Regions from separate parts of the Homo sapiens genome. Here regions 2 and 3 are each linked to region 1. Evidence: fine-mapped expression QTL. A gene starts in region 1. Each other region holds a variant in brackets. All regions are shown on one strand. Distances are between the middles of the regions. Region 1 holds the start of ADA2 (adenosine deaminase 2). Region 2 overlaps ADA2 (adenosine deaminase 2). Region 3 has its middle 22 kb from the start of ADA2.

What was found. PIP is the estimated chance that this variant, and not a neighbour inherited with it, causes the effect.
Region 2: its variant is fine-mapped to the expression of ADA2 in whole blood (INTERVAL, PIP 0.99).
Region 3: its variant is fine-mapped to the expression of ADA2 in whole blood (TOPMed, PIP above 0.99). The same link has a PIP of 0.9 or more in blood mononuclear cells and monocytes.

What each region holds. Positions count from the first base shown.
Region 1 is chr22:17,214,160-17,224,810 of GRCh38, reverse strand. ADA2 (adenosine deaminase 2) reads left to right here and starts at 5,376. Exons shown (of 10, transcript NM_001282225.2): 1 at 5,376-5,455. It also overlaps the pseudogene FAM32BP. RefSeq lists enhancers at 5,589-5,718, 5,729-5,798, 5,639-5,999.
Region 2 is chr22:17,168,964-17,179,614 of GRCh38, reverse strand. ADA2 (adenosine deaminase 2) reads left to right here. Exons shown (of 10, transcript NM_001282225.2): 10 at 1-825. Among named protein-coding and RNA genes, the nearest start is that of HDHD5-AS1, 15 kb to the right of the region's middle. RefSeq lists a silencer at 7,669-8,098 and an enhancer at 7,949-8,450. The variant TG/G (reference allele first, on the strand shown) is at 4,779.
Region 3 is chr22:17,236,270-17,246,920 of GRCh38, reverse strand. No RefSeq gene overlaps it. Among named protein-coding and RNA genes, the nearest start is that of ADA2, 22 kb to the right of the region's middle. RefSeq lists enhancers at 3,093-3,352, 3,373-3,432, 9,328-9,417, 9,488-9,537. The variant A/G (reference allele first, on the strand shown) is at 4,651.

The DNA of each region.
Region 1 (10,651 bases):
GAAGGCTTTTCCCTCTTCTTGACTGTGGATATAAGTTGCTGATGTTTGGGAGACTAATAGGGGAGAAAGGCTTGGAAGACTCAGTGTTCAATATGCAAAATTTAAAAAAAGTCTTCATTTTTAGTATGATAACCCCATCCTTAACTAGGCCAGAAACTCTGTTTTACCTTTCCCTGAAAACAAATCTTCACTGCTCTGCTGAAGAGGGAGTGGGAGGAATGTCTGTGGCTCTAGGTTTTTGTTAAAAAGGCTTTCCAGCCATTCCTCCATTTCTCCTGCTTTGGACTTACCTTCAGCCTCACTTTCACAGGTATCCGAGGTTTCTTTCGTCACTGCTGGTTTCAGATTCAGTGTTTGTTTTTTTTGTTTGTTTGTTTGTTTTTTTGTCTTCTAAATTATTAGCACTTGTTTATGTACCTTCCATCTTCCAAGTTTTTTTTTGCTATTTTCTCCTTTCTTGCTTTCTTCAACCTTGTGAATATATGCTTAATTTTTTTCCCCACTGTCATTTTAGTGCAGGTTTTGGAGAGGAACTAAGGTTAATTCATGTGTTCAGCCTGCAATCTCTAATTGAGAATCCATCCATGCACTTGTGAATATGCCCCAACTCATAGAGCAATTGAAGGGGCTCTCACTGGTACTGTTGGAGTATCTTGTTCTTCAGTCCCTAGACCACAAGAAGTAAAGCATTAGAGGGAGAGGATTGCTGGAATTTAGACCTACCCAGAATGACAAGTGAACTGCATAGGAAGGGACAGAAAAATTATATAAAAATACATACAAGCAGAGCAGTCTGAAGCCATTTAGGACAGGGGCAAACAAAGCTCCACACCTCACTGGCATTGGAAATAGAGTGATAATGCAATAGCAATAGAAAGTATTATGATAAATGCTCATAATAATGATACCAAGTCCTCAAAAAAGATCAAATTATGTTCACTGCACCCTAAGAAGCCAGAAAAAATACTAGAAAGATTTGTGCAAGGAAAATTACTTATGCTGGGCTGGGCACGGTGGCTTACACCTGTAATCCCAGCACTTTGGGAGGCCGAGGCGGGCAGATCACCTAAGGTTGGGAGTTGGAGACCAGCCTGACCAACATGGAGAAACCCCGTCTCTACTAAACAAAACAAAACAAAACAAACAAACAAACAAAAATTAGCCAGGCGTGGTGGCACATGCCTGTAATCCCAGGTACTCGGGAGGCTGAGGCAGGAGAATCACTTGAACCCGGGAGGCGGAGGTGGTGGTGAGCCGAGATCATGCCACTGCACTCCAGCCTGGGCAATAAGAGTGAAACTCCTTCTCAAAAAAAAAGAAAAATGAAAATCATTTATGCTGTGTAATTGTATAGTTGCTTTATAGTTTTAAAAATATTTTCAGCCAGGCACAGTGGCTCACGCCTGTAATGCCAGCACTTGGAAGACTGAGGCAGGTGGATCACGAGGTCAGGAGTTCAAGACCAGCCTGGCCAAGATGGTGAAACCCCGTCTCTACTAAAAATACAAAAAAAAAATTAGCCAGGCATGGTGGCAGGTGCCTGTAATCCTGGATACTCGGGAGGCTGAGGCAGAGAATTGCTTGAGACTGGGAGGCAGAGGCTGCAGACAGCCAAGATTGTGCCACTGCACTCCAGCCTAGGTGACACAGCGAGACTCTGTCTCAAAAAAAAATTTTCACATATATTATTTCATACATACACACACACAAAAAACTTACTTAGAAAAAAAAAACTTAGTAGGAGGCACATGACATTTTTTCCTTCTTGCAGATTAAAGCTTTGAGTTTTATGGATATTAGGACATTTTCTTCAAAACCACATAGCAGTTCAATGAAAGAGCTAACTTTTCTGCTTCCTAAAAATACTTTGGTGTTTCAAAACACAAGTTCCCAGTGTCTGGAAAAATCACTTATGCCTGGTAACGTCTATTCCTGGGCTCCACTTTTGCTAATTGTGTGTTCCTCCAGGGATCTGCTTCCTTGTGCCCGGTGACTCCCCCACTACTTCAAAAACCTTCCATTTTCTTGCTGCCAGGGAAAGCGGTGTGGTGGAACCCACCTGGGCCTGCAAGGCCGTGCTATGCTTGTTACTAGCTGTGTGACCTTGGGCAAGTTACCTTACTGCCAGGTGCTTCAGGGTACGCCTCTCTCAAGTGGGGATTGCAATAGTCCCTACCTTATAAGATTGCTGCAAGGATTAAATGAGTATATATACACACACACACATACACACACATATTTGTATATACTCATTTATAGGTATGTATTGCTGTAGGGATTAAATGTTATATATATATATATATATATATATATATATATATATATATATATATACACACACACATACATATATAATTCTTAATATGCCTTAGCAATTATTATTTCCATTTTCTTAACTCTGGGTCAGAGAATCTTATTTACCTCATATAACAATCATATATGCAGCACTTTAAACCACTGGTAACTCTGCTATACTCTGTTATAGGTTGTGCATAGCATATAATTCATGATATTGGTGTGAAGAAAGGGATGTTTTAATGAAAATACCTCTCAAATGTTTGTGTAGCCATAGATGATCTTTAATTCTGAAAACCTCTCCTGTCTCCAATTCTGAGGTCATAATCCACCTGTCTCTTCAGGCATCTTTCTGTTGAGGTTTAGTTTTGCAGTCACTAAAAGATGCCTTTGTCCTGTTTTTCTGCCCTGCAGATTTTCAGGTTCTGAACACAAGCCCAGTTTCTGCTTCTGATGATCATTTTCAATAGAGCATAAAAAACAGAGCCATGTTCCACGTTTTTACGGCCTCTGCACTTGGCAAAATATTCTTCCCGAATGGCCTCACGTGTGCTCCCTATCATCACGCCTTTTCAGCTAGGCAACGCTCAGAGTCACACCTGAGTGGAGGCCGACGCCCCTTTGGAGGCGACTCCAGCCATAAAAAGTCCTGCTTGGAGCTGGTTTTAGCCACAGAGGGCCAATAAATGGCCCCTTCTGAATGAGGTGCCCCTGCACCTCTGCAGAGCCTGCTGCCAGCCTCCAGGATCTAACTGGGCTCTGATTCACCGCTCCCAACCCCACATCCAGGTAAGTGTGCCCAGCTCTTGTCTCTGCTTCCACCTCAAGATCTGAGTCTCCACTCCCCAGAACCCGGCAGGTTCTGCCTGACAAGGACCTGCAGTCCTCTGCCAGCTGCCACACCCTTGCCAAGGTGTGACTTGGAGTCCTGGAGCCACCTTCGGAGATGTGAAAATTAGCTCCTACTTTTAGCTAAAGCGTTTGGAAAGAAAAGCTTGATCTTTAGCTTTGACCTGGTCTTTAAAAAAACCCTTCAAGGGGAACATCACACACCAGGGCCTGTCGGGGGGGTCGGGGCTGGGGGAGGGATAGCATTAGGAGAAATACCTAATGTAAATGATGTGTTGATGGGTGCAGCAAACCAACATGGCACAGGTATACCTATGTATCAAACCTGCACATTGTGCACATGTACCCTAGAACTTAAAGTATAAAAAAAACCCACAAAAAACCCTTCACATGATTTACTTTCAGAATTGGTGGTTTCCCTTTGTGCGGCGCTGGAATCAATCTTGTTTCTCCTTATTACTTGCGGTGCATTCTGCTTCCTCTAACTTTCAAAAAATTAGTGTTAAACTCTTTTTTTTTTTTTTGAGACAAAATCTCACTCTGTCATCCAGACTGGAGTGCAATGGTGCAATCTCAGCTCACTGCAACCTCCACCTCCAGGGTTCAAGCAATTCTCCTGCCTCAGCCTCCCAAGTAGCTGGGATTACAGGTGCGCACCACCACACCTAATTTTTGTATTTTAGTAGGGGCTGGTCTCGAACCCCTTCCATTGTGATCCACCTGCCTCGGCCTCCCAAAGTGCTGGGATTACAGGCATGCACCACTGAGCCCAGCCTAGTCTTGAACTCTTGATGAGGGAATCCCTGACCCCTCTGTGTTTTCACTTTGGGATTTCTTCCTGTTTATTAAATGAATGACCTTGGTACTTTTTGGAGAAAATGACAAAAAGGAGCATCAAGGCTCCAGATGTATGGGAGCTGCAGAACTGAAACTGCCGTGGGCTTTTGGGGGTAGATTTGGGGTCTTGGGGGTAGATTTGAGTGGGACTGGGGAGGAGTGGGGTGCAATCGAGTCTTTAGACCATGCATGTGACATGGAGGTCCCTGGTGTAGCCTCCCATGTCTGCATTTCTAATTGGCTTGGATGAGGCATCCCAATAGTTACTTCTAAGAATAGTCATGGCTAATATTTATCAAGAGCTTTCTATGTGGCAGGTACTTTGCATGTGTTTTTCCTTTAATTCTGACAATGGACCCTCTGTGGTGGGTGCTTTTATTATCCACATTTTCAGATGAGGAAACTGAAGTATAGAGAGTTGAAACAACTTGGTCGAGGCCCCACTGCTACAGTGCTAAGGCCAGCTACAAAGCGAGGTCTGACTCTGACCGTCCTGGGTACAGGAGCCTTGTCTGCTCCACTTGTCCCTTGGAGCGTTGTTCTTGCTGGTCCTCTTCACACCCCAGCTCTTGTCTCCTACCTCCTGCCCCCTCTACTGTCCTGTCCCCGCATCCCTGATTTCCCCCCTAAAACATATATTTTATTATAGCTACTTTTTACTCTCTGTCTAATGGGTTGCCCCACAGTCCACAATCACATTTTGAGGAAGGAGAACTTCCCAGAGTTCATGAACAGATTTTGGAGTGCCTCTTTGCGGTGCTTGTTTCCAAAACCAACATGCTGTGGACCTTTCAAAGACACAGTACACACAAACACACACACACCCTCCCTCCAACACAAATAAACCCACATGCGGCCGGGCATGGTGGCTCACGCCTGTAATTCCAGCACTTTGGGAGGCCGAGGTGGGCGGATCACCTGAGGTCAGGAGTTCGAGAGCAGCCTGACCAACATGGTGAAACCCCATTTCTACTAAAAATACAAAAAATCAGTGGGGCATGGTGGCGCACGCCTGCAATCCCAGCTACTCGGGAGGCTGAGGCAGGAGAACTGCTTGAACCCGGGAGGCGGAGGCTGCAGTGAGCTGAGATTGCGCCATTGCACTCCAGCTTGGGCAACAAGAGTGAAACTCTGTCTACAAAAAAAAAAAAAAAAAAAAAAAAACAAACCCCACATGCACATAAACCGAAACACACACGAACACACAAACACCCACATGAACATGCGCACAAGCCCCCCACATCAAACTCAGATGCACACAGCAAGCATGCATGTAAGCCACACACTTGCCACTCTGGCTGCCTCAGCACTGCAGAGCCCCTCTCCCCGGCCTCTAGTTGGATCCCTGGTGCACACTGGAGGGAAATAAAACCTACCCCAACAGGAAGTGAAACAGTTGGTGAGCTTTTCCGGTGCTCTGCACAGATGCTGGGGCGCTGAGCAAACAGCCCTCAGTTTCTGGAGCTGTTCCGAGGTAACTGGGGTCCTTTGGGAGCTGTGGGATGATGAGGTTCAGGAGGTAGCTGGGAAGTCCGGAGCTTGGGCTTGATCCACCTGCACCTCTCCCTGTCTCCATCTGAGCTGGGTCTGAGACTCTCAGTGGAGGAGTAACAGGCTTTCTCCCAACAGGCTTTTGAAAATGGGCCCAAGGGCATTTACTCAGGACCACAGATGCATGTGGCCTACTCCACTGTCACCAGGCTGGAGTGTGGTGGCACGATCTCGGCTCTCTGCAACTTCTGCCTCTCGAGTTCAAGCCATTCTTGTGCCTCAGCCTCCCTAATAGCTGTGATTACAGGCACCCACCACCACGCCCGGCTAATTTTTGTATTTTTAGTAGAGACGGGGTTTCACCGTGTTGGCCAGGCTGGTCTTGAACGACTGACGTCAGGTGATCTGCCTGCCTCGGCCTTCCAAAGGGCTGGGATCACAGGCAGAGCCACCACACCCAGCCTCCTTTCTTCTTAGTCTGGAAGCAAACTACTTTATGAAGTTTTCATGCATCCTCTTTTAAAAGTAAAAGGAAAATCTTGTGGAGGAGAGAAGATGAAGTAGATATAGCAATAAATTGTGAATAAGGATTGTTTTTACTAGTATTCAACCAGGCAGGTCTTGACCACCATTAGATAAACTTCTGTCTGGCAGCCTGGAAAAGTTCACAGTTGCTGGGACACAAATGCTTTTGGGGTCCTTCTTGGAGAGGATGGAGTTGAAGATTTGGGAGCTTGATGGCCTTTGTTATGTGTCACCAGGGAGACAGGGACAAGGGGCGGGGCTGTTGATGGAGAATGTGGCATGGGGTAGGTGGGATGGTGACATAGAAGTCACCGTGCTCCTGCCCTAGAGATTTTAGTAGCAGGCAAACACCGTGGTCAAAAAAGAGAGTCAAGGACTTAATGAAGTTAAAGGGGTTCTGCTGACGTCCAGCACTCTGATTTTGGGGGTACAGCTTCTGCCATAACTGCATATTGCTGATACTAGTTCCTTCTTAAAATTTTCTTTGCTATCTGATGTACTACAGAATAACTGAGCTGGGAAGAATCTTGGATATTAAAATGATTTAATGAGTAGCAAACTTTCCATTTTTGTCATATCCTTGCACCTCTATTTACTTAATATTTTTCTTTAACTTAAAAATTTTTCAACAAAAACAATAATAGTTACGATATCATGGGTTTGATGTGCTAATACATGTTTTAAAATTACCTATCTGTCAACATAACCCCTATCCATTTGTGAGCCACCTAAGATTGTATTTATGCCACTGATGATATTCATGCTGCACTTGGAAAACCACTGATCTTGTCCAAGTTACCTTTTTTGTAGGTGAGGACACTGAGATCTGGAGACGTTAGTGATTTGCCCAAGGTTGCACAGTTAGAATGATACTAATTTGAGGCTGTTCCTAAGGTCTCCTAATTTACAGTCTTGACATGTTCCAGTATGCTGTATCATACTTTCAAGTGTAGAGAAACAATCGTTTTATTTTCATTTTAAAAATTTTATTTACGTATTTATTTTTGAGACAGAGTCTTGCTCTGTCACCCAGGCTGGAGTGCAGTGGTGCAATCTAGGCTCACTGAAACCTCCGCCTCCCAGGTTCAAGAACTTCTCATGCCTCAGCCTCATGAATAGCTGGGACTACAGGTTCAATACACCACGCCTGGCTAATTTTTGTATTTTGGTTTTGCTATGTTGCCCAGGCTGGTATCGAACTCCTGGGCACCAGTGATCTGCCCACCTCAGCCTCCCAAAGTGCTGGGATTATAGGCATGAGCCACTGCCCCTTCTTAAATGTAATTCAAATAGATAACCCAGGTAAAGGAGCAGCATAGAGCCTTGTGTGAGGAGATGCTGAATACATTTCCTTCCTTCAGTCCCTGCTCGTTGCCACCCTGAACTGGCTGCTCTCTGCAAGTTTTGATAATCCTTTCTAATGCTAATGCTCTGAAATACCAAGATGCTGTACCTTGGTGTGGCCACAGAATGATTGACTGTGCTGTGCAAGGTACTCAATCTAAAGACTGTCAGTTCTGGGGCAATTTCTTGTATTCCTTATTGGCTTATTTCCTTCACCTGTTTTTTTTTTCTTTTTCCTTCTGAAATGTCTGTTATTTGGGTGTTGGATTTCTTCAACCAATAATCATCTCATTTTCTTTTCTCCTATTTTGCTTTACTTTTAAAAATATTTTCTTTAACTTCATTTTTAATATTGCTAGTAAATTTTTAAACATTCGGCTTTGCTGTTTTTAATTTCTGAAAGTTCTTTCTAATTCTCATTTTTTTAATCACCTCCTGTTCCTGTTTTACACACACAATGTTTTATGTCTTTAAGGATGTTAATTACAGTTCTTTCAGGTTTTTCTTTTATTTCCTGTGTTGCTTTGTTTCCTCTCAGTTCCTTATCTCTGTGTGTTTTGTTTTGGTTTCTTTCTCAGTTTGAAGCATGTCTTATGATCTTGTGCTCTGGTTATATTTGTTATTTATTTATTTATTTTAACTTTAATCCATTTTATTTGAGTCTCTCTCTCTATATATATGTGTGTGTGTGTGTGTGTTTTTTTTTTTTTTGAGGTGGAGTCTTGCTCTGTTGCCGGGCTGGAGTGCAGTGGCACGAACTCGGCTCACTGCAACCTCTGCCCTCTGGGTTCAAGCAAGTTTCCTGCCTCAGCCTCCCAAGTAGCTGGGATTACAGGCACACGCCACATGGCTAGTTTTTGTATTTTTAGTAGAGACAGGGTTTTGCCATGTTGGCCAGGCTGGTCTTGAACTCCTGACCTTGTGATCCACCTGCCTCGGCCTCCCTAAGTGCTGGGATTACAGGCATGAGCCACCATGCCCGGTCTTAGTTACTCTGAAATATACATAATATTATTGCTAAGTATAGTCACCCTAGTCTACTATGAAACATTAGAACTTATTTCTTCTATCTAACTGTAGGTTTTTTTTTTTCCTGGGAGTGGGGCAGATAGGGTTTCACTCTGTCACCCAGGCAGGAGTGCAATGGCACCATCATGGCTCACTGCAGCCTTGACCTCCCAGACTCAAGTGATCCTCCCACCTCAGCCTGCTGAGTAGCTGGGAGTACAGGTGTGTACCACTACACATGGATAATTTTTATTATTATATTTATTTATTTATTTTGAGATGAAGTCTTGCTTCTTCCCCAGGCTGGAGTGCAGTGGTGCGATATCGGCTCACTGCAACCTCCGCCTCTCAGGTTCAAGCGATTCTCCTGCCTCAGCCTCCTGTGTAGTTGGGATTACAGGTGCACGCCACCACGCCTGACTAATTTTTGTATTTTTAGTAGAGATGGGGTTTCACCATGTTGGTCAGGCTGGTCTCGAACTCCTGACCTCGTGATCTGCCTGCCGATAATTTTTAAATTTTTTGTAGAGATGGGGGTCTCGCTTTGTTGCCCAGGCCAGTCTTCAACTTCTAGGCTCAAGTGATTCTCCTGCCTCAGCCTCTTGAAGTGCTTGTCTATTTGTACCCATAACCAACTTCTCTTCATCCCCCATGTCTACCCCAACCCTTCATAGTCTCTGGTGTCTATCTTTCTATTCTCTATATCTATGAGATCAACTTCCTTAGCTCTCACACATGAGTGGGAACATACGGTGTTTGTCCTTCTGTGTCTGGCTTATTTCATTTAACATTATGTCTTCTAGTTCCGTGCATGTTGGTGCAAATGACGTGATTTCTTTTTTCTTTTTTTTTTTTTGAGACGGAGTCTTGCTCTGTCGCCCAGGCTGGAGTGCAATGGCATGATCTCGGCTCACTGCAACCTCCGCCTCCTGGGTTCAAGCAATTCTCCTGCCTCAGCCTCCTGAGTAGCTGGGATTACAGGCATCCGCCACCACGCTCAGCTAATTTTTGTATTTTTAGTAGAGACGGGGTTTCACCATGTTGGTCAGGCTGGTCTCAAACCCCTGACCTCGTGATCCACCTGCCTCCTGCCTCGGCCTCCCAAAGTGCTGGGATTACAGGCGTAAGCCACCGTGCCCAGCCCGTGATTTCATTTTTTAATGGCTGAGTAGTATTCCATTGTGTATATATGCCACATTTTCTTTCTTTTTTAAATAACTGGCTTCTGCTTTCTTGTGTAATTTACACAGGAGAACCCCAAATTCCACACTTTGTTTTTCTCTTCTGCCTTTGTTATTCTTTCAGTATGTATGTCCACAGAGATTGTTTCTCCCAATAGCATATGCGGTTTGATCCTCAACCAGGACACACAGGCCCTACAAAATCCCAGCCCTCCAAGACGGATGCCTGGGCCCTCCCATTTGACTGCACCCATGTCTGTTTGTACTGGGGCTCTGCCCTGGTCCTGTCACCCCTGAGGTGTCCTTAGGGTAGGAATGCCAGACAGGCTCCGTGTGATGTGTCAACTCTGAATAAATACAAGAGGCTGCTAGGAGCCCCCAGCTGAGGATTGACAGGCAGGCTATATCTGGGCTCCATTTCAAAGAATGCTGTGATCCATTAGCAATGTCTGCCATGGCAATACCCATTAGGAGTACCTGGAAGGAGGGTTTTGGGGAATGGGCTCAGAAAGGAACAAAGTGTTTCCTTCCATTCTTGCCTTAGGTGGCTGTTCTGCCACCCAGGCTGTGCTGTCTCAGTGGCCAGTGGCTGAGGAGGAAGTCTGAAGGCCACAGAGTTGCAAATGGCTTCCCTGGGGCCTGCAGGACCAGCATAGGCCCCAAGCTAGAGGAAGCTTGGAGGGGCACCCATGCTGGGTCCTGCGGAGCTCTGCATACTACAGGCCACCCTGGCATTAGCTCCTTATCCTCTGGAGTCCATCTGATCCTGGAGAAGACAGCTGGCTGGCCTCAGAGCGTTAGATGCAACTCGGGGATAAAAACATTTTTACATGGTACGGACACAGAAATGGGCTTTACCTCTGAATAAACTTAGAAACTTTCCATCCGAACTAAAAGGGTGTATCTTCTATATGTTGCCAAGAAACCTAAACTGAGTACAAGGACAATTTTACTTTAATCAAGTTACAGAATGAGGGTACACAGCTTCGAAAAGCAGTTTGTAGCAGAAGATGCGAGGGTGTGTGTAAAGCCATGTTTCTAGAATATACCAAAGGAAACACACACAACCCCAGCATGGCCTTTTGCCAACCCTCGATGCTGCTCCCTACTGGGGGCAGGCG
Region 2 (10,651 bases), 45 kb after region 1:
GAAGATTCCTTCTTTCCCCTTTTGTCTTGCCCACTCCTGTTTACCCTTCAAGTTTCAAGTTCATGTCACTGTCTCAGAGAGGTTTTCCTGTGCTCGCCCTGTTTCTCTCAGGAAGCCTTGCTCTTTTCCATCATGCCTCTAATCACAGCTTATAATCGGATATTTATTTCTGTGTCTACAGTCTTGCCCTGCCAGACTGTATGCCCCATGTGGGCAGGCGCTCATGATTGTTTCTGATTGTTTCACGCATGCTGCTAACCCAGAGCCTGGGCCCAAAGCTAGTTAGTACTCAATAAACAATGCATTGAATGAGTGGCTGTCACTGTGTCTGTTCAGCCAGCTGCCAAGGCAGAGGGGAGTAGAGCAGAGCCGCCCCAAATAAAAGACCTCATGTGATCAGAGTCCAGCTCCTCACCTGGCCTTGGAAGAAGGATGCAAGAAGCCACCTCTGTCCTCACCCAACTCAAGGATGGCAGGGAATCAAAGAATTCCTCAAAAGCCCCAGGCGAATGTCCTCTCATCCATCTTCCATGACCTGTACCTGAGCTCTCAGACAGCAGCAAGCCCTCTCTCCATTCCTAGTTTATCACCATTTGGTTCCTGGAACTGGGAAAAAACAGCAACCATAAGCTGTGCCTGGATGGAAGAAGACAACCTCTAGGGTCCTGTCTAACTCTGCAGGTGATTCAGTGCCTTACCCAATCCCTGAAGATCTTTTAGGTCCCAACTGCGCAGGGGACCTCCAACACAGGCAGACGCAAACAGCCTCTGGCCTGGACTTGCTGTGATCTCTGATTTGGCAAAATGAACCAGCAATAGTCTTGCCTTTGTGCTTTGTGTCCAGTTCTTCCTTCTTTTTTTTTTTTTTTTTTTTTTTTTGAGACAGAGTGTCTGTTGCCCAGGCTGGAGGGCAGTGGCGCGACCTTGGCTAACTGCAACCTCTGCCTCCCGGGTTCAAGCAATTCTTCTGCCTCAGCCTCTCGAGTAGCTGGGTTTACAGGCACCTGCCATCACGCCTGGCTAATTTTTGTATTTTTAGTAGAGACGGGGTTTCACTGTGTTGGCTAGGCTGGTCTTGAACTCCTGACCTCATGATCTGCCCGCCTCGGCCTCCCAAAGTGCTGGGATTACAGGTGTGAGCTGCCACACCCGGCCTTTTTTTTTTTTTTTTTTTTTTTTGGAGACAGTGTCTCACTATGTTGCTCAGGCTGATCAACTGATCTCAAACTATGGCCTCAAGTTATCCTCCTGCCTCAGCCTCCTGGATACCTGGGATTACAGGCACTAGCCACCACATCCAGTCTTTAAGCTTTTAAATTCAACTTACAAAGCTTGTTAGTTCTTCCTTCTTGACTTTATTCCTCATTGCATAGGCCTAGTCCTATTGAACTAAATGTCCATGGAGCATTTATCTGATCATTTTGAAATAATTTCAAAAAGTTGCAAGAATAGTACAAAAAACTCTTACCAGGCCAGGCACAGGGGGTCACGCCTGTCATCCCAGCACTTTGAGAGGCCGAGGCGAGTGGATTGCTTGAGCCCAGGAGTTTGAGACCAGCTTGGGCAACATGGCCAGACCTCATCTCTACTAAAAATACAAAAATTAGCTGGGCATGGTGGGGTGTGCCTGTGGTCCTAGCTATTCAGAAGGCTGAGGTGGGAGGATTGCTTGAGCCCAGGAAGAGGAGGTTGTAGTGAACTGAGATCACACCACTCCACTCCAGCCTGGCCAATAAAGCGAGACCCTGTCTCAAAAAAACAAACAAAAATAACAACAACAACAACACAAACCTCTAACATTCTCTTTGCCCAGGTTCCCCCAGTTATTAACATTTTACAACATTTGATTCCATATATCATTCTTTCTCTGTTTCTAATTGCTCTCTCTATATATCCTATTTTTTTTAACCACTCGAGACTAAGTTGCAGATATTATGCCTTTTATTCCTAGATTCTCCAGTGCACATTTCCTAAAGACAGTGACATTCTCCTATGGAGCCACAGTACATCCAATCAAATCAGAAAAGTATTAACATTGAAAAGACGCTAGTATCTGGCTCTGGCCCTGCTGAGCTTTGTTTTGTTTTGTTCTTGGTCCAGAACCCAATCCAGGATCACAAGTTACATTTAGCTGTCAACTCTCTAGTCTCTTTCAGTCTGAAATAGCTTCTTAGTCTTCCTTTGTGTTTTGGAACCTCATTTTTGAAGAGTACAGGCCAGTTACTTCATAGACTATCCCTCATTTCAGGTTCATCTAATGTTTCCCTAGGAAGAGGCTCAGGGGATACCTTTTTGAGAGGAGCACCTTGGCAGCGAGGCTTTGTCCTTCTCAGTGTACACACCAGGGGCACATGAATGGGGCCAAGTGTTATACTTCCAGCTTGTTGTTAAACCTTTAGGAGTCTGGAATTGGTCTTGATGGGAATTTTTTTTTTTTTTTTTTTGAGACAGGGGTCTCACTCCATTGCCTAGGCTAGAGTGCAGTGGCAGGATCGCTGTTCATTGTAGCCACTACCTCCTGGGCTCAAGCAATCCTCCTGCCCAGCATCCAAAGTAGTTGGGACTACAGGCGTGCACCGCCACCTCGGCTAAGTTTTCTTTCTTTTTACTTTTTGTAGAGATGGGATCATGCTATACTGTCTAGCCTGTCTCAAACTCCTGGCCTCAATCCATCCTCCCGCCTCGGCTTCCCAAAGTGCTGGGATTACAGGCATGAGCCACGACACCAGGCTTGTGGGAGTTTTTGTGCCACAAAAATCAGCAAATGTTACAAATCCATGTCCCCACCAGCCAGCTGTTACACATTTGCCAGCATACTGATGCATACAATGTTAATTTGTCTCAATATGATACTGACTTTGATCGCTTAAGTTGATTTCTGCCAGAATTTGCCATTGCGAAGTTACCATTTTTCCCTTAGTAATTAACACATATTTGGAGAGGAGACACTTTATGTAAAAGTCTTCACTCCTCCTTAAAACTTTACCCATTAGTGCTTGCATCCACTGAGGACTTTTGTCTAAATCTGCTATTACTATCATGGTTGCTGTTCCGTTTATTGCTGTGTAGCAAATTATCCCAAAACGTAGTGGTTTGAAACAAAAATAAAAATTTATGGGGCCAGGCGTGGTGGCTCACATCTTTAATCCCAGCACTTTGGGAGGCCGAGGCGGGCGGATCACCTGAGGTCAGAAGTTTGAGACCAGCCTGACCAACATGGGGAAACCCCGTCTCTACTAAAAATACAAGATTAGCCAGGCATGGTGGCGCACGCCTGTAATCCTAGCTACTTGGGAGGCTGAGGCAGGAGAATAGCTTGAACCCGGGAGGCGGAGGTTGCAGTGAGCCGAGATGGTGCCATTGCACTCCAGCCTGGACAACAAGAGTGAAACTCCATTTCAAAACCAAACCCAAAACAAACAAACAAATTTATGATCTCTCCCAGTGTCTGTGGGTCAGGGGTTTGGGCAGAGCCCAGCTGGACAGTTCTGCTCTGGGTCTCTCATGAGGTCCTTGTCACAGTGGAGGCAGAGCTGGAGCTGACGGGCCGCCAGGGGTCACCTCTCTGCACAGCCCCAGGGCTCAGCTGGTGCTCTCCTATGGCTAGTTTGGGCTTCTTCCCATTGGCCTCAACTTCTGGGGTAAGTATTCCACGGAATAAATGGAAGATTCTGGAAGTCACATGGCATTATTTCTGCCATACTTCGTTGGTCCCAACAGTAACAAAAAACACCTCCTGGTTTTAAGCGGAGGAGACAGAGATCCCAACTTTTGATAGAAGATTGTCAAAGTCACATTATAAAAAAGAATATATAGGATAAGAGAAGTCGTTGGAAAATATTTTGGAAAATACAACCATCAAATGGTGATTTTTTTTTCCTTCCTTCCTTCTTTTTTTTTTTTTTTTTTTCTTTTTCTGGGTCTCGCTCTGTCACCCAGGCTAGAGTGCAGTGGTATGATCACGACTCACTGCAGCTTTGACCTGTTGGGCTCAAGAAATCCTCCAGCCTCAGCGTCTCAAGTAGCTGGGACTACAGGTATGCATCACCGCAACCAGCTAATTAAAACTTTTTTTTTGATACAAACAAAGTCTCACTATGTTGCCCAATATGGCTCAAACACCTGGGCTCAAGCAATCCTCTCACCTCAGCCTCCCAAAGCATTGGGATTATAGGCGTGATCCACTGTGCCTGGCCAAAATGGTGATTTTCTAATTCTACCATTTCTTCCATATTAGTTGCCATTTTGCTGCAAGGAAGAACAATTCCTTCCCTCCCAGCTTCCTTTTTTCCTTTTTTTTTTTTTTGAGACAGAGTTTTGCTCTTGTTGCCCAAGCTAGAGTGCAATGGTGCAGTCTCGGCTCACTGCAACCTCCACCTCCCAGGTTCAAGTGATTCTCCTGCGTCAGCCTCCCAAGTAGCTGAGACTTCAGGCGCCTACCACCACGCCTAGCTAATTTTTGTATTTTTGGTAGAGATAGGGTTTCACCATGTTGGCCAGGCTGGTCTCGAACTCCTGACCTCAGGCGATCCGCACGCCTCGGCCTCCCAAAGTGCTGGGATTATAGGCGTGAGCCACTGTGCCCGGCCCCTTTTTTCCTTCTAGCTGTACGACTCAGGGATTCAGGTTGTATTCAATGAGCTATAATCCATTACTAGCACTATTTATTGTGATGCTTACACTATTCCAGATCTGGCCATGGGAGCCCTGTTAAGTTGGCTGCTGATAAAGTTCTATAATTGAGAACTTTCTTACTTTTTCCTTTTTTTTTTTTTTTT[TG/G]TGACAGGGTCTTGCTCCATCCCCCAGGCTGGAGTACAGTGGCACCATCACAGCTTATTGCAGCCTTGACCCCACAGGCTCAAGAGATCCTCCTACCTCACCCTCCCTAGTAGTTGGGACTACAAGCACGTACCACCACGTCTGGCTAATTTTTGTATTTTTTGTAGAGATGGGGTTTTGCCATGTTGCCCAGGCTGGTCTCAAACTCCTGAGCTCAAGCAATCTGCCCACCTCAGCCTCCCAAAGTGCTGGGATTATAGGTGTGAACCACTGCATCTGGCCATTCTTCCTTACGCAATAAAATGTTCTACCTTCATTTTGTACTTTCCCTGTGTCATGCCTGAGCTCAGCCATTTCTCCAGGGAGCTCTGTTCCTTTCAGTAGAGAATAATATTTAGTAGCCCTGATCTAGGCACTAGATGTGCTCATTGTTACTGGAGTGTGTGTGTGTGTGTGTGTGTGTGTGTGTAGACACAGAAATACAATTTATGCATATTAAAATGGGAATATTATGGCCAGGCATGGTAGCTCATCCCTGCAATCCTAGCACTTTGAGAGGCTGAGGCGGGTGGATCACTTGAGGTCAAGAGTTCGAAACCAGCCTGGCCAACATGGTGAAACCCCGTCCCTACTAAAAATAAAAAAAATTAGCCAGACATGGTGGTGGGCACCTGTAATCCCAGCTACTCAAGAGGCTGAGGCAGGAGAATCGCTTAAACACAGGAGGCGGAGGTTGCAGTGAGCCAAGATCATGCCACTGCACTCCAGCCTGGGCGAGACTCTGTCTCAAAAACAAACAAACAAGCATCCAAAACAAAACAAATAAAAAAAATGGGCAGGAAGAGGGAAAGAGTTGAAAAAAGAAGAGAAAACGATGGAATTGTTAGACTGGAAGTGGCCACTGGAATGGAAAGAGTTGAAAAAAGAAGAGAAAACGATGGAATTGTTAGACTGGAAGTGGCCACTGGAATGGAAAGAGTTGAAAAAAGAAGAGAAAACGGTGGAATTGTTAGACTGGAAGTGGCCACTGGAATGGAGGGCTCGGCTACCTTAGCAGTGCTCCCGAAGCTGCCATTTCAGAGGAAATGTGTGTTAGTCAGATTTTATTCTTTTTTCCTTAAGAAGACCCTTCAAATATGTATAAACCTCAGGACTGCCCCAAAATCTGGATCTGCGCCTGCTCTAGATCAGCTCTTCATTTGGAAGGAGGAAAGCGAGGTGGAGGTGTGTTCGTTTGAAAAGACTAGCTGAAAAGAGAAAACTTACAGGAGCCTCAGCTTGTGAGGGACCTTGAAAGACTATGCAACCAGCCTCACCTTCAGGAAGAGCAGCCCGAGACTTCCTCAGGAAGATGTCCCTGTTTCTTTTTATTTTCTTTTTTTTTGAGACTGAGTCTCACTCTGTCGCCCAGGCTGGAGTGTAGTAGCATGATCTCGGCTCACTGCAACCTCCACCATCCCAGTTCAAGTGATTCTCCTGCCTCAGCCTCCCTAGTAGCTGGGATTACAGGCACGCGCCATCACACCTGGCTAATTTTTGTATTTTTAGTAAAGTCGGGGCTTCACCATGTTGGCCAGGCTGATCTCGACCTCCTGACCTCAAGTGATCTGGCTGCCTCGGCCTCCCAAAGTGCTGGGATTACAGCCGTGAGCCACCGCACCCGGCGCCTGTTCCATTCTTAAAGCTCACCAGAACGCGATTCTGTAAACTGCTTCAGCCACCCATTCCGGAATCCCAAATGACGCCTTCCCATGGTCAGGATTTCAATGAGTGGTGCCATCCTTGGCTCTCACAGGAACTGATCCCTTGGGGAGGACTGTATGAAAATGCATCTGTAAGCTCAGATGAAGTCAGCATGCTAGGGTTGGAAATATTATTTTCACATACATAGTCTAGGTTACTTAATTTATTGTTTTGAGACAGGGTCTCACTGCCCAGCCTGGAGGGCAGTGCTGTGATCATAGCTCACTATAATCTTGAACTCCTGGGCTCAAGGGACCCTCCCGCCTCAGCCTGCCTCTCCAGTAGTTGGGACGACAGACGCGCACCACCACGCCCGGCTGTTTAATAGAGATGGGGGTCTCCTTTTGTTGCCCAGGATAGTATTGAACTCATGGCCTCACGTGATTCTCCTGCCTGTATCTCCCAAGGCACTGGGATTACAGGCCAGAGCCACCTTGCCAGGCCAGTATGTTACTTTAAATAGCAGTCATCCTAAAAATAGCTTACCCTCCTCTGTCCTTCCCTGCCTGGAAAGGGTGTAAAAATAACATTTGGGGGCTGTAAATGCTGTCTAGATCTCTGGAGCTAGGTAGGTGCAGAGGTGTGATTTGGGTTTGGCTGTGCTCCGAAAAAACCGGGGCCGAGCTGCTGGTTTTGAATTTGTCCAGGCTTTTTAGCCAATAGCCTCTTCCTCCGCCGGGAAGGGGTGGGACCCAGCCTTCCAAAACACCTTTGCTGAGGAACCGTGCAAAGACCTTGGATGAGGGCCCCAGCTCAGCCAGGCCTCCCTGAAGCGAAGCCAGCCCGGGGTGGGGACTGGTGGAGGGACTAGAGTTTCTTAGATTCACAGAATAGCAGAGCTGGGAGAGGCCTAAAGACCATCTTATCTACGCGTTTGTGTTTCTGATGACTGATTAAGGCCCAGAGAGGGTCAGTAACTCTTCCAGGTCGCACAGTGGGTGACAGTAGGTATGTGCTCGTCCTGGGACACAGAGCTGTTTTCTTCGCTTGTCTGGAGTGGGTTTCGGGGGTCGGCACTTGCCTCCCAGTGAGCTCCCGGCGCCTGCCAGTCCTGGCTGAGTGGGATCGGTCGGCCTCCACCCCTAATCTCCCCCGCTGCAGAGCCAAAGCACACCGGCCTCCAGGGGGCGCCGCCTCCGGGACGCGCCGACTCTCCCGAGCCCTGCTCTCTCTGGCCGGGGTCAGCCCCGGAAACAGCTTCAGTTTCCTGTCCCTTCCTCCCTGGGAGCAAGGATGTAGGCGCCCAGACCCCGCCCGCGGGCTCCCTTCGTCCGGCGTCCCTAGCGGCCCGCCCGGTCCCGCCGCCCCGCGGCTTGCGGATGGCTGCGGCCCCCCGGGCCCCGGGTGGCTGCGGTGGCGGGGAAACGGCAGAACGCAGGCGGCGATTCGCTGGGGACGGCGGCCGGAGGGAGGCGATGGCCCCAGGCTCGGCGCACCTGTGGAACTGCGCGGGCGGCGCGGCGCTGCTGCCCCCTGCCGGCCGCGCCCGGGCCCACTCCCGTGTCCACCCCGGCCCGGGTGCCCTCGGAGTCCCTCGCGTCACTGTGGGCAGCGCCAAGCTACGGCTTCCCATGGCAGAGCGGGGTGGGGCCGCGGGACGGCACAGAGCTCCCCTGCCGCGAATACGCCGGTTTAGTTGCTTCCCACAGATCACACATGGTCTCGCCTGTCCGCAGGGTCCCCTCCCGGCCTCAAGCCCCTGCCAGGCAGCATCGGCCGCTGGTGACCTTGGGTCATCCTGGCCTCTATGCATTTAGAGTAGACGCCGGGTGGTGGCGGCGCCTGTAGTCCCGCATTCTGGGAGGCCCAGGCGGGGCGCTAGAGCCCAGGAGTTCTAGACCAGCCTGGGGAAAACAGCGAGACTCTGTCTCTTCAAAACAAAACAAAAACAAACAAACAAAAAAGGGTAGAGCCCATAGTACAGGATGAGAGAGTAGTGCCGTAATGAATTTTAAATTTTAATTACATTTAAAATTAAAATGAATCTATATACAATCACATTTCAAAAATTCAAAAAGTATGAAAAGGAACACATTCGAAAGGCTTCTATCCACCTCTGTTTTCCACTGTCCTCTTTCCCATCCCACCCATTCTCCCACCAGGCTTAGTTTCTTGTGTTTCTTTATGCAAAATAAACAAAAGCAAATATATATATTTTTTCCTGCTCTCATATAAAAGGCAGCACAGTATCCACACTGTTCTGAACTCTTTTTTTTTTTTTTTGAGACAGGGTCTCACTCTGTTCCCCAGACTGGAGTGCAGTGGCACAATCTCAACTCACTGCAGCCTCCACCTCCTGGGTTCAGGCTATTCTCCTGCCTCATCTGGACCACAGGCGCACACCACCATGCCCGGCTAATTTTGTATTATTATTTTTTTCGAGATGGAGTCTTGCTCTGTCGCCCACAGATGGAGTGCAATGGTGCGATCTCGGCTCACTGCAACCCCTGCCTCCCGGGTTCAAGCAATTATCCTGCCTCAGCCCCCCGAGTAGCTGGGATTACAGGTGTGCGCCACCACACCTGGCTAATTTTTGTATTTTTAGTAGGGACGGGGTTTCACCATGTTGACTAGGCTGGTCTTGAACTCCTGACCTCATGATCTGCCCACCTCGGCCTCCCAAAGTGCTGGGATTACAGGCGTGAGCCACCACGCCCTCCCTAATTTTTTTATTTTTATTTTTTATTTTTTTGAGATGAAGTCTTTGCTCTTGTCACCCAGGCTGGAGTGCAATGGCACCATCTTGGCTCACTGCAACCTCTGCCTTCCAGGTTCAAGCAATTCTCCTGCCTCAGCCTCCCAAGTAGCTGGGATTACAAATGCACACCACCACGCCCGGCTAATTTTTGTATTTTTAGTAGGCCAGGCTGGTCTCGAACTCCTGACCTCAGGTGATCCAGCCACCTCCCAAAGTGCTGGGATTATAGGCATGAGCCAACGTGCCCAGCGAATTTTTGTATTTTAGTAGAGACGGGGTCTCACCATGTTGTCCAGGCTGGTCTTGAACTCCTGACCTCAAGTGATCTGCCTGCCTCAGCCTCCCAAAGTGCCGGGATTACAGGCCTGAGCCACTGCGCCCCGCCTGGATCTCAAGTCTTGATAAGATTTAGGATTGATTCTTTCAGCAGGACTACTTAACAGGTGGTGTGCCTTCCAATTTGCATCCCAACCGTATTAGGGTTCTCCAGAGAGACAGAACCTATAGCATGCAGGTAGGTAGGTAGGTAGATAGATAGATAGATAGATAGATAGATAGATAGATAGATAGATAGATAGATAGAGATAGGAGACAGACAGATAGATGAGAAGGGATTTATTAGGTGAATTGGCTCCACGTGATTATGGAGGCCTGAGAAGTCCTACGACAGGCCGCCTGGAGACCTGGGGCTGCTGGGAGCATGGCTCAGTTCAAATCTGAAAGCCTCTGAACCAGGGGAGCTGAAGGTGTGACTCAGTCTGAGACTGAAGGCCTGAGAACCTGGGGGGCTGCTGGTGCAAGTCCCAGCATCTAAAGGTCAAGACCCTTAGACTTCTGATGTCCAAGGGCAGGAGAAGAAGGCTGTCCCAGCTCCAGGAGAGAGACAGCAAATTTGCCCTTCCTCTGCCTTTTTGTCCTACCGAGGCTCCCAGCTGATTGGATGGTACCCTCCCATATTGACAGGGCGTCTTCCCCACTCAGCCTACCAACTCATACGCCAGTCTCCTCTGGAAGCAGCCTCACAAGACACTGCTTTACCAGCTATCTAGGTGTCCCTCAATCCAGTCAAGTTGACTCCAAAAAGTAACCATCAAATACAATGAAGTGCAGCCAGTCAAAGGCTGGGACCCATCCATGGCTGGAGCCACAGGGGCAGCAGCCAGTGGGGTCACTTGGAGTCAGGGCATGGGGAGACAGCATCAGGCAGTGGCTCCATCTGCTCAGCCCACCCGTAAGCCTGGGCTCTGGAGGGCAACTGACTCCCCCAGGAGCCTTCCCTCTGCCTATCCCTGGAGTTCCCTCCCCTCCTATGGGAGTCTGGGGGCCTTCAGGAGCTGATCCCCTTGCCTGCATGCCAGTCTCCCTAGGAAGGATCTTGCAGAATGAGCCCAGGTTCAGCTCAGAGACTCTCTGGTGCCAGCTGCCCCTTCT
Region 3 (10,651 bases), 22 kb before region 1:
CGTGAGCCACGGCACCCGGCAGCACTTGCTTTTTCTAATAACAAAGTGCCGTGACTGCTCTGCCATCTGCCAAGAGCTGTGGAACCAAGGGTCTGGGCTGGAGGCTAGAAGGCCATGGTTCTGGGGACCCCACTTGCACCCTCTTACTGATTTTATGGAGTGGACCCGAGAGCACCAGCTCTGTCTAAAGGGGGCAGCTACTGGTTTTGCCTTGTATGAAGAAGAGTCCCCTTTTGCCCAATATTCTGATTTTTTTTTCTAGGAGAATTTAAAAATTTTAATACTATGTGATGTTGTCTCCTTTTTTTAAAGCTAGCAAAAAATTCAAAATAATATTTTATTTTATTTTGAGACGGGGTTTTGCTGTGTCACCCAGGCTGGAGTGCAGTGGCGTGATCTCGGCTCACTGTAATCTCAGCCTCCCGGGTTCAAGTGATTCTCCTGCCTCAGCCTCCAGAGTAGCTGGGATTACAGACATGTGCCACCACACCTGGCTAATTTTTGTATTTTTAGTAGAGATGGGGTTTCACCACGTTGGTCAGGCTGGTCTCGAACTCCCGACCTCATGTGATCCGCCTGCTTCGGCCTCCCAAAGTGCTGGGATTACAGATTTGAGCCACTCCTCCCAGCCATCAAAAGAATATTCTAAATATGGTGGACCAAGCACAACATCTGAAGGTTCTATTTTGACCTCCAGGTAGGTGTGCATGAGGGATCCTTTTGGGATACTGACAGTGTTCTATAATAAACTCTAGAAGTGATATCCCTGAAAGTATGGTCTTACTGGTAATGTTCTAAAATGTATTAAGGTAATGGCTGTGCAGTTTGGTAAATTGACTAAAATTATTGAATTGTACACTTGAAAGGGATGAATTATATATATAAAATATGCCTCAGCCAGGCGCGGTGGCTCATGCCTATAATCCCAGCACTTTGGGAGGCCGAGGCAGGCGGATCACAAGGTCAGGAGTTCGAGACCAGCCTGACCAAAATGGTGAAACCCCATCTCTACTAAAAATACAAAAATTAGCCGGGTGTGGTGGTGCGTGCCTGTAGTCCCAGCTACTCGGGAGGCTGAGGCAGGAGAATTGCTTGAACCTGGGAGGCGGAGGTTGCAGTGAGCCAAGATCGCGCCACTGCACTCCAGCCTGGGCGACAGAGCGAGACTCCATCTCAAAAAAAAAAAAAAATGCCTCAATAAAGTTGAAAAAAATTTGTCCTGCAGGCTGTAGTTTGTAGTCGAAGGCCTAGAATATTATTCCTAAGGCCTTTCTCCCTTCCTGATTGTGGTTTTGTAGAGGCACCAACCCTGCTGATAGTGAGAACTGACAACATCAGCTTATAAGTGAGGGAGTGTGGCCCAGTGGTTCATACATGGGCCATGGAGTCACCTGAGTTCAATTCTGCTTTCCTCAACGACTAGCCATGTGACCTTGAACAAGTGATGTCCCCAGACTAGTCAGCTTTTCAGGACTCAGTTTTCTCATCTCTACAATGACAATGGTTATAATATCTGGAAGATTAAATGATGCCACACATGTAAAGCATCTGGCACAATGTAAGTCCTCAAGTAGTATTTCTCATTAGGAACTCTTGCCACTAAGCCCAGTGACCCGTTTAGTACCTGAACTAAATGAGGTGGAGCTTGCAGTGAGCCGAGGTCGCGCCACTGCACTCCAGTCTGGGCGACAGAGCTAGACTCTGTCTCAAAAAAAAAAAAGATTTTAAAAAGGTGGTGAATTCAAGTTGTGTCTTCAGAAGTTCAGATTTGGGCTCATTTTTCTTGGGTAATCTAGGAGGGTCAATTTTGCACTACCGATCTCCACTCCACCCCAACAAATGTTGCTCCTAAAATGGCCGTGGGACCTCCATTACTTTCTCAGCAAAAGTGAATTCTCGGCTGGGCGAGGTAGCCACGCCTGTAATCCCAGCACTTTGGGAGGCCAAGGCGGGTGGATCATCTGAAGGTGGGAGTTCAAGAACAGCCTGACTAACATGGAGAAACCCCGTCTCTACTAAAAGTACAAAATTAGCCCAGCATGGTGATGCATACCTATAATCCCAGCTAGTCAGGAGGCTGAGGCAGGAGAATCACTTGAACCTGGGTGTCAGAGGTTGTGTTGAGCTGAGATCGTGCCATTGCACTCCAGCCTGGGCAACAAGAGCGAAACTCCATCTCAAAAAAAAAAAAAAGAAGAAGAAGTGAATTCTCACGTACTTGTTTCAGACAGGTTTTTTTTTTTGTTGAGACGGAGTCTTGCTCTGTTGCCCAGGCTGGAGTGAAGTGGCGCGATCTCGGCTCACTGCAAGCTCCGCCTCCCGGGTTCACGCCATTCTCCTGCCTCAGCCTCCCAAGTAGCTGGGACTACAGGCGCCTGCCACCACGCCCAGCTAATTTTTTGCACTTTTAGTAGAGATGGGGTTTCACCGTGTTAGCCAGGATGGTCTCGATCTCCTGACCTCGTGATCCGCCCACCTCAGCCTCCCAAAGTGCTGGGATTACAGGTGTGAGCCACCGCGCCCGGCTCAGACAGGTTTTTAAGATACTGCTAATATAGCACTTGGAATGAAGGCACTCTGGCTGTCACTAGGGCGTGGTCAGTGCCCAGGGACTCCTGCCCATAGAGGAATGAAGCCCTACCCAGAGGCACCCTCTGCACGCCTGTGAAACCCCAGCAGGGGCTGCCACATTCCCTGGGTTATGGGTGCGGCAATGTGAACCGGGAATAAAACCTGGGGCCTTTCAGAGTGGCAGAGGAGGCTGAAAAGAGGTGGAGAGAGCCCAGCTGCACTCACGGGCCAACACAGACCCCTGGTCTAAAAGGAGTCCCCCAGAACGGGTCAGGCCAGAAATCCGTTCTAGTCCTCAGTTCCCCATGTTCTCTGTCCTCTGTGTCTCTCGCCAATTGCATAGGCTCCTCTTGTCTTTCTCTCCTTCCCTCCCCTGCCTGCATCTTCTCAACAGATGCCCTGTGCCGTCAATAAGTAGCCACGGGCCCCCCAAGCAAACAGGGGCATTCTCACCAGTATCTGAGTGCTCCCAAAGGGCTGTGGGGTCCGATCAGGTGGGAATGGGGCACAGATGGGGCTCATTCGCCTGGCCTGTTGGTTGAACTTGCCCCCTGGGGTGTGGCCATAGAGTTGTGGTGGGGAACCCCTTTTTCATGTACCCTGAGTAGGGGAAGCTGTGTGGAGAAAGTGGGGGGTAGGACTCTGCTGAGCAGGGCGAGGCCCACGGTTGTCTCATGACATTAGAAACATGAAATGAAACTCAAGGTCCTGAGTCATCCCTGTGACTGAGGCTTTTGGACTGGCTTTTTTTTTTTTTTTTTTTTGAGACGGAGTTTAGCTCTTGTTGACCATGCTAGAGTGCAATGGCGTGATCTCAGCTCATTGCAACCTCTGCCTCCTGGGTTCAAGAGATTTTCCTTCCTCAGCCTTCCTGAGTAGCTGGGATTACAGGCACGCGTCACCACGCCCGGCTAATTTTGTATTTTTAGTAGAGACAGGGTTTCTCCATGTTGGTCAGGCTGGTCTCGAACTCCCAACCTCATGTGATCCGCCCGCCTCGGCCTCCCAAAATGTTGGGATTACAGGCGTGAGCCACCGTGCCCAGCCTCGGACTGGCTTTTACCATTTTGAACAGAAAGTCTGCAGCGTGAACAATGGCTCAGGCTGATGAATGCCTCAGTCTAAGTGATTTAGCTGGTGCTGACCCGCTCCCTCATTGATCTTCCTCATTCCCAATTCCAGCAGCAATTGAAGTCTGCACCACACAATTTAGAACTCAGTTGTATATCACCTGCTGCTGTTCCTGTTGTTTCCTATGAGTTGGTCTTGCCTTTCCAGCAAGAATTACAAGCTCCTTCAGGACTGGGATCAAGTTTGTTTGATACTCCTTTAACCTCCAACGCCACTCAATAAATACCCCTTGATTAGATCAGATAATATCTGCATTGCAGTGAGCCAACTTGGCACAGAGAGGCACTCAATAAATGCTTGCATGAAGGAGTGATTTTTTCTGTTGACAAAGGACAAGACAGATCTTTCTGAAATTTTGCAGGAGGTACTTACATCTAAACTTGGTCTGCTGATTATGACAAATCTCAGCCCCCTCTTCTGAAATCACTTCCCTCAACTAGTGAAATAGGTTGGTATTAGTATTCCATACTTACAGTGTTGCTGGCTGAGTGGTGTCTCCCCCAAAATTCATGGGTTTGTTTTGTTTTGTTTTGTTTTGTTTTGAGACAGAGTCTTGCTCTGTTGCCCAGGCTGGAGTGCAGTGACACGATCATAGCTCACTGAGCCTCGACCTCCTGGGCTCAAGGGATCCTCCCATCTCAGCCTCCCAATGTGTTGGGGTTATAGTTGTGAGCCACCACTCCTGGCCCAAAACTCGTGTGTTGAAGCCTTAATGCTCAGTACCTCAAAAGGTGACTGTACTTGGAGATAGGACCTTTAAAGAGGTGATTAAATTAAAAGGAGGCCCTTAGGGTGGGCCTAATCTAATCTGACTGGCGTCCTTATAGGAACAGGAAATTCGGAGTGGGAAGAGACAGCAAGGGTCCTTGTTGGCACACTGAGGCCTCAGAAGAAACCAAGCTTGTCAACACTTTGATCTTGGACTTCCAGCCCAGGGAACTGTGAGGA[A/G]ATAAGTTTCTGTTTTTTGAGTCACCAAGATTGTGATATTGTGTGATGGCAGCCTCAGCCAACTAACACAGAGAGAAGTTGAGGTCTCCAGAAGGGAAGTATCTTCTGTCATGGAGTAAGCCTCTAAGCTGTCCAGAATTCCCCCAAGGTCATGTGTCCCTAAGTGCGGGCACTCCCACAGGGGTGCCACAGTCTAGCCGTGTCCTGGATTTACTCCTTCTTGTGCTCCCTTCATACCAAGCCAAGGGTCTCTGTCTCCGTGGGGCATTCTCCCCTGGATCCTGGCCACTCCACACCCCTCCCCACCCTCTCACATTCCCACCTCCACATCCCTGCAAGCACCCATGTGAGATGTGCCCTGCCACACTGCAAGGAAGTGCAAGGCTCACATGGTGTTTTGTTGGGGTGACTCCAGAGAGCCTTCTTCCAGGGCTCCATTCTCTTTGCATGGGAGGACAGCATCAGGCAGTTCCATCCACGGGCTGCCTAGTCTGAGCAGTTGCTAGCGTCAGGGTAGGGCAGACCTCTGAGGCCAGGCCAGTGGGCGGGCAGAAGCCACGCTCCCAGGCACCAGCCAGGAAGCTGGATCTAGGGGTGGGCATGTGGAGGTGGGAATTCCAACAACGTCTGGGAGAAAGACAGGCGAGGCACAACAGTCAGAGGACCAGAAAGAAACCAATGAGTGGAGGCCTGGTCGGGCCATCTGGGCAATTGCCTGTTTGTTTAAGAGATCCAACTCTGAGTGTATGGAATTGAGAGACCTGGGCCCAAGGGGCAGAGGGTAGGGGACTCCCATGCAGTTTATGCCCTGGAGTTCTTTTTTTTTTTTCTTTTGAGACAGAGTCTCACTCTGTTGCCCGGGCTGGAGTGTGGTGGCATGATCTCAGTTCACTGCAACCTCCACCTCCCAGGTTCAAGCGATACTCCTGCCTCAGCCTCTGAAGTAGCTGGGATTACAGGCGCCCGCCACCATGTCCAGCTAATTTTTTTGTATTTTTAGTAGAGACAGAGTTTCACCATGTAGGCCAGGCTGGTCTCAAATTCCTGACCTCATGATTTGCCCGCCTCAGCCTCCCAAAGTGCTGGGATTACAGGCGTGAGCCACTGCGCCTGGCCAACACCCTGGAGTTCTCTCTCGTGTATCTGTCAGATTTTGTTTGCCCCCTTTCTCCTACCTGCACCTAGAAAACTGTTTTTCACCTGGATTCCCGTTTTCCAGTGTCAGCTATGTGTCACACTTTGCCAGCTTTTGCCCAACCACGTAGGATGTGATCTGAGCACACAAACACCTTCCAGGTTTTAAAAAACTGTTCAGTTAATCATTGCAGGCACGTCTTGGTTACTGAGGCTGGCCTTTGTCTGGAAGTGTCTTCTAGGTAGACTTTGACTAGCAGAGAGTAGCACCTTTGAGGCTGGTGTGGATTGCCTCATTGCATGGTGCCCACCTTCCGTGCATGGCCCCTCAGTGTGATACCCAGGGGGCTTTGTCTGCGGGTGGGGTGTGATAGCAAACCTTCTGTGAAAGGGAGGCTGCCACTCCCCTTCGCTACCCGCCACTTTGATCTAACCTAGCTGGGTGCACTGTTGTCCTTGGTTTGCTTCTACAACACTGCAGTTTCTGTGTCACCTTAAGCCCTTGAAACCTAGTGACCGACCTTCTGAAATGCCTCTGCAGCTCCATCACTCATCCTAGAAAGATGGCATTATCCATCCTCAAGGAAGATATCCATCCTAAAGAAAGATTCAGCTAGGATATACAATGCTTCTCAAACTTGACCATGCACGAGGATCACTGGAGGGGTGGTTAAAGCAGATTCCTGAGTCCCCGCCCTGGAGTTTCTGAGTCGGGAGGTCTGGGAAGGTGAGGCTGCTGAGTCTGGCCAGGGGCCATACTCTGAGACCCACAGAGCTAGGATTACAAACTGTGCCATCTCTCTGAGTGTGTGCGACTGAACACTTGCTTTTAACCATTCTTTCTCAAACACTCTCTTGCGAATGTTGAGGAGAGCCTGGATCAGGGTCCTGGATAAGAGCTGACGAAATAGCACCAACAGTGGGTCTCTGGGCCTAGTTAGCCCTGAAATGTAGTTGGGGCTGAGCCTGATATTTCACAGGCTGCTTCTTGACTCATGTTTGAAAATTTTTTTTTAATCCAGTGTGATTTATTCTTTCTTTGAGACAAGGGCTTGCTCTGTTGCCCAGGCTGGAGTGCAGTGGCACAATCATAGCTCACTGTAGCGTTGACCTCCTGGGCTCAAGTGATCCTCCCGCCTCCCAAAGTGCTGGGATTAGAGGTGTTAGCCACCACACCCAGCCAAACTCTAACAAAATACTGTAGAGAATAAATCACAATAAAGCAGGTGCAGTGGCTCATGCCGGCAATCCCAGCACTTTGGGAGGCCAAGGCAGGAGGATCGCTTGAGCCCAGGAGTTCAAGATCAGCCTAGGCAACATAGCGAGACCTCATTTCTACAAAAAATTTTTTCAAAAATTAGCCAGGCATGGTGGCACGTGCCTGTGGTCCCAGCTGCTCAGGAGGGAGACTGAGGTGAGGGGATCCCTTCAGCCTGAGAGGTCCAGGCTCCAGTGAGCTATGAATGTTTGCACCATTGCACTCCAGCCTGGTGGGGCAGAGCAAGGCCCTGTCTCTAAATTAAAAAATAAGAAGTCCAGGGAGGCTCAGCTGAGTTCTCTGTTTAAGATCTTGCAGGCTGAGATCAAGGTGCTGGCAGGGCTGCATTCCTGACCGGAGGCTCTGGAGGAGTCTTCTCCTACACTCATGCAGGTTGTGGGCTAACGTCAGCTCCTGGAGGTTGTGGGACTGGGACCCCTCTTTCCTTGCTGGCTGTCAGCTGGGGAAAAGTCTCTGCTCCTGGAGGGTGCCTGCTCTCCCTGACATGCTTTCTGTCAGCCGTGAGTCCCTCCCACCCTTCAAATCTCTGGCTTTTTATGTTGAATCTCTCAGGCTCCAGCCATATACAGCTCTGTGCTTTTAAGGGATCATGGGATTAGATTGGGTTCACCTGGATAATTCCGGCTAATCTCCTCATTTAAAGGTCCATGACCTTAATTAGATCTACAAAGTTCTCTGTGCTGTATATAATACAACATATTTTCAGGATTAGGGCACGGAGATCTTTAGGAAGATATTCTGCCTGTCACAAATAGGTAACACGGTTGAAAAAAAAATGAGAATACCATCTAAGTGATGACAGTGAAGTCTTATTCCAACTCCCTGTCCTTTCTGCCTGATTCTTCACCCATCTGAACAGCTTGCCACTTGTATTAGTCTCTTGTGTATCCTTCCAGAGTTTCTTTTTTGAAAACATAGCCATGAATAGCCTAGATGCGGTGGCTCATGCCTGTAATCCCAGCAGTTTGGGAGGCAGAGGCAGGCGGATCGCTTGAGCCCAGGAGTTCGAGACCAGTAACATGGTGAAATCCCACCTCTACAAAAACAATACATAAATGAATAAATAAAATTAAGGCCAGGCGCGGTGGCTTACACCTGTAATTCAGCACTTTGGGAGGCTGAGGCGAGTGGATTACCTGAAGTCAGGGGTTGGAGACCAGCCTGGCCAACATGGTGAAACCCGGTGTCTACTATTTTTTTTTTTTTTTTTTTGAGATGGAGTTTCACTCTTGTTGCCCAGGCTGGAGTGCAATGGCGCAATCTCGGCTCACCGTAACCTCCGCCCCCCCAGGGTTCAAGTGATTCTCCTGCCTCAGCCTCCCAAGTAGCTGGGGTTACAGGCGTCTGCCACCACGCCTGGCTATTTTTTTGTATTTTTAGTAGAGATGGGGTTTTACCATGTTGCTCAGGCTGGTCTCGCACTCCAGACCTCAGGTGATCCACCCGCCTCGGCCTCCCAAAGTGCTGGGATTACAGGCACGAGCCACCGCGCCCGGCCGCCTTTTTTTTTTTTTTTTTTTTTTTGGAGACAGAGTCTTGCTCTGTGGCCCAGGCTGGAGTGCAGGGGCACAATTTCAGCTCACTGCAATCTCTGCCTCCTGGGTTCAAGCAATTCTCTTGCCTCAGCCTCCCCAGTAGTAGCTGGGACTACAGGCGCCTGTCACCATGCCCGGCTAATTTTTATATTTTTAGTAGAGACGAGGTTTCACTGTTGGCCAGGCTGGTCTCGAACTCCTGACCTCGTGATCCACCCGCCTTGGCCTCCCAAAGTGCTGGGATTACAGGTGTGAGCCACCGTGCCCGGCGAAGGTTTTTTTATAGTGCATAGAAAAAGTTCTTCATCTATCTTTATAAAACATAGGACTCGGTACATGGGTACCGTAATTTACTTAACCGGCCTCTTATTCACAGACTATTGGTCTATTCCTGATATTCTGCCATACACTCTGTAGCCACCTGTGCTAACTTCATACACACACATTGCTTACATGTGACCACTGATTTTTGTTTTTTACTCTAACATCTCTAAGGCTAGAGGCAAGTTGGGGTGGTAACAGTCTCTTGTGGGTACACAACTTGTCCATGGGCAGTTTGATGGCCCACAAAATGGAGGCTTTTGCTTAAATCTGTGAATCTGTGTCATTGCCGAACCTAAATGTTGTCTCAGTGCTGCCAAAGCATTCTCAGCTTTTCTGTAGGACACTGGTCAGCCCCAGTGCACACCAACCCAGTCCATGTGAACGGTGCCTGTCAGGTGCAGCCACCAGATGGGCAAGCTGCCACTCGGCCCCAAGCCCCTGCACCCACCGGCCTTGACACTCTGACCAGAGGACATTCCTCTTGCGGGGCCTGAACTGTCATCCCCGCTCATCTTCTGGGTGGTGTTTATGCTCTTGCCCACAAGGGCCCTTTCCTTTGGCCCTTTGGAGGCCTCCGGCTCCCTGGCCAGTCCCTCCTCCTCTCCTGTTTTCTGGGTTGTCGTCAGGTGTCTGAAGATTCATAAGCTGATTCTGAAGGCTGATCTCCTCACCTAAAATAGCAAGCTCAGCTGACTGCAGGGCTTGGCCTCTCAAGGCATGCACAATAAGGGTCTTGGCTGCAGCCAATTTCCTGCCCCCTCCCCACCACCCAACCTCAGCCCCAGGACCAGAAGTTTTCTGTCCTTCCTATTTTATTCCGTAGAGGTCTCAACTTTCAGTTTCATTATGAGACAGAAATGAGTGACGTCTCCTGAAGGGCTCTCTGATGACTGACTGGGGATAAGTACCCACCCCTCCAAGCCTTCTATCACCACTGCAAAAAACTCACAGTGGGCAGTGACTGCACATTCATCAGCAGACAGACATCCATCCATCCAGAGAACCAGGGCTGTCCCCCAGGCTGGGTTCAGGGGCTGGGGAGAAGCAAACTGAGAAGCCAAGGCAGGGCCTAGAACTCTGGGAAGACCAGGAAAGCACAAACCATGGCTTTAATAAACAATAAAATAGATTTAAGAGCTATTTCTGGCCGGGCGTGGTGGCTCACACCTGAAATTCCAGCACTTTGGGAGGCCAAAGGGGGGCGGATCGCCTGAGGTCGGGAGTTTGAGACCAGCCTGACCAACATGGAGAAACCCCGTCTCTACTAAAAATACAAAATTAGCTGGATGTGGTGGAGCATGCCTGTAATCCCAGCTACTTAGGAGGCTGAGGCAGGAGAATCGCTTAAAGCTGGGAGGCGGAGGTTGCGGTGAGCTAAGATCACGCCATCGCACTCCAGCCTGGGCAATGAGTGAAACTCCCTCTCAAAAAAAAAAAAAAAAAGGAGCTGTTTCAATCCACTGGGACGGATTTCTTTCTATTCTCTCTGCATCAGATGGAGCAGAGCTTCCAGATGGGGGTTAATATGAGCTGTCACTTCTCACTTGGCATCGCATATTCTTTACTCACTTTCCTTTTTTTTTTTTTTTTTTGAGATGGGGTCTCACTCTGTCACCCAGGCTGTAGTGCAGTGTGCGATCATGGCTCCCCACAGCCTTGAACTCCTGGGCTCAAGGGATCCTCCCACCTCAGCCTCCTGAGTAGCTGGGAGTACCTGGGACTATAGATG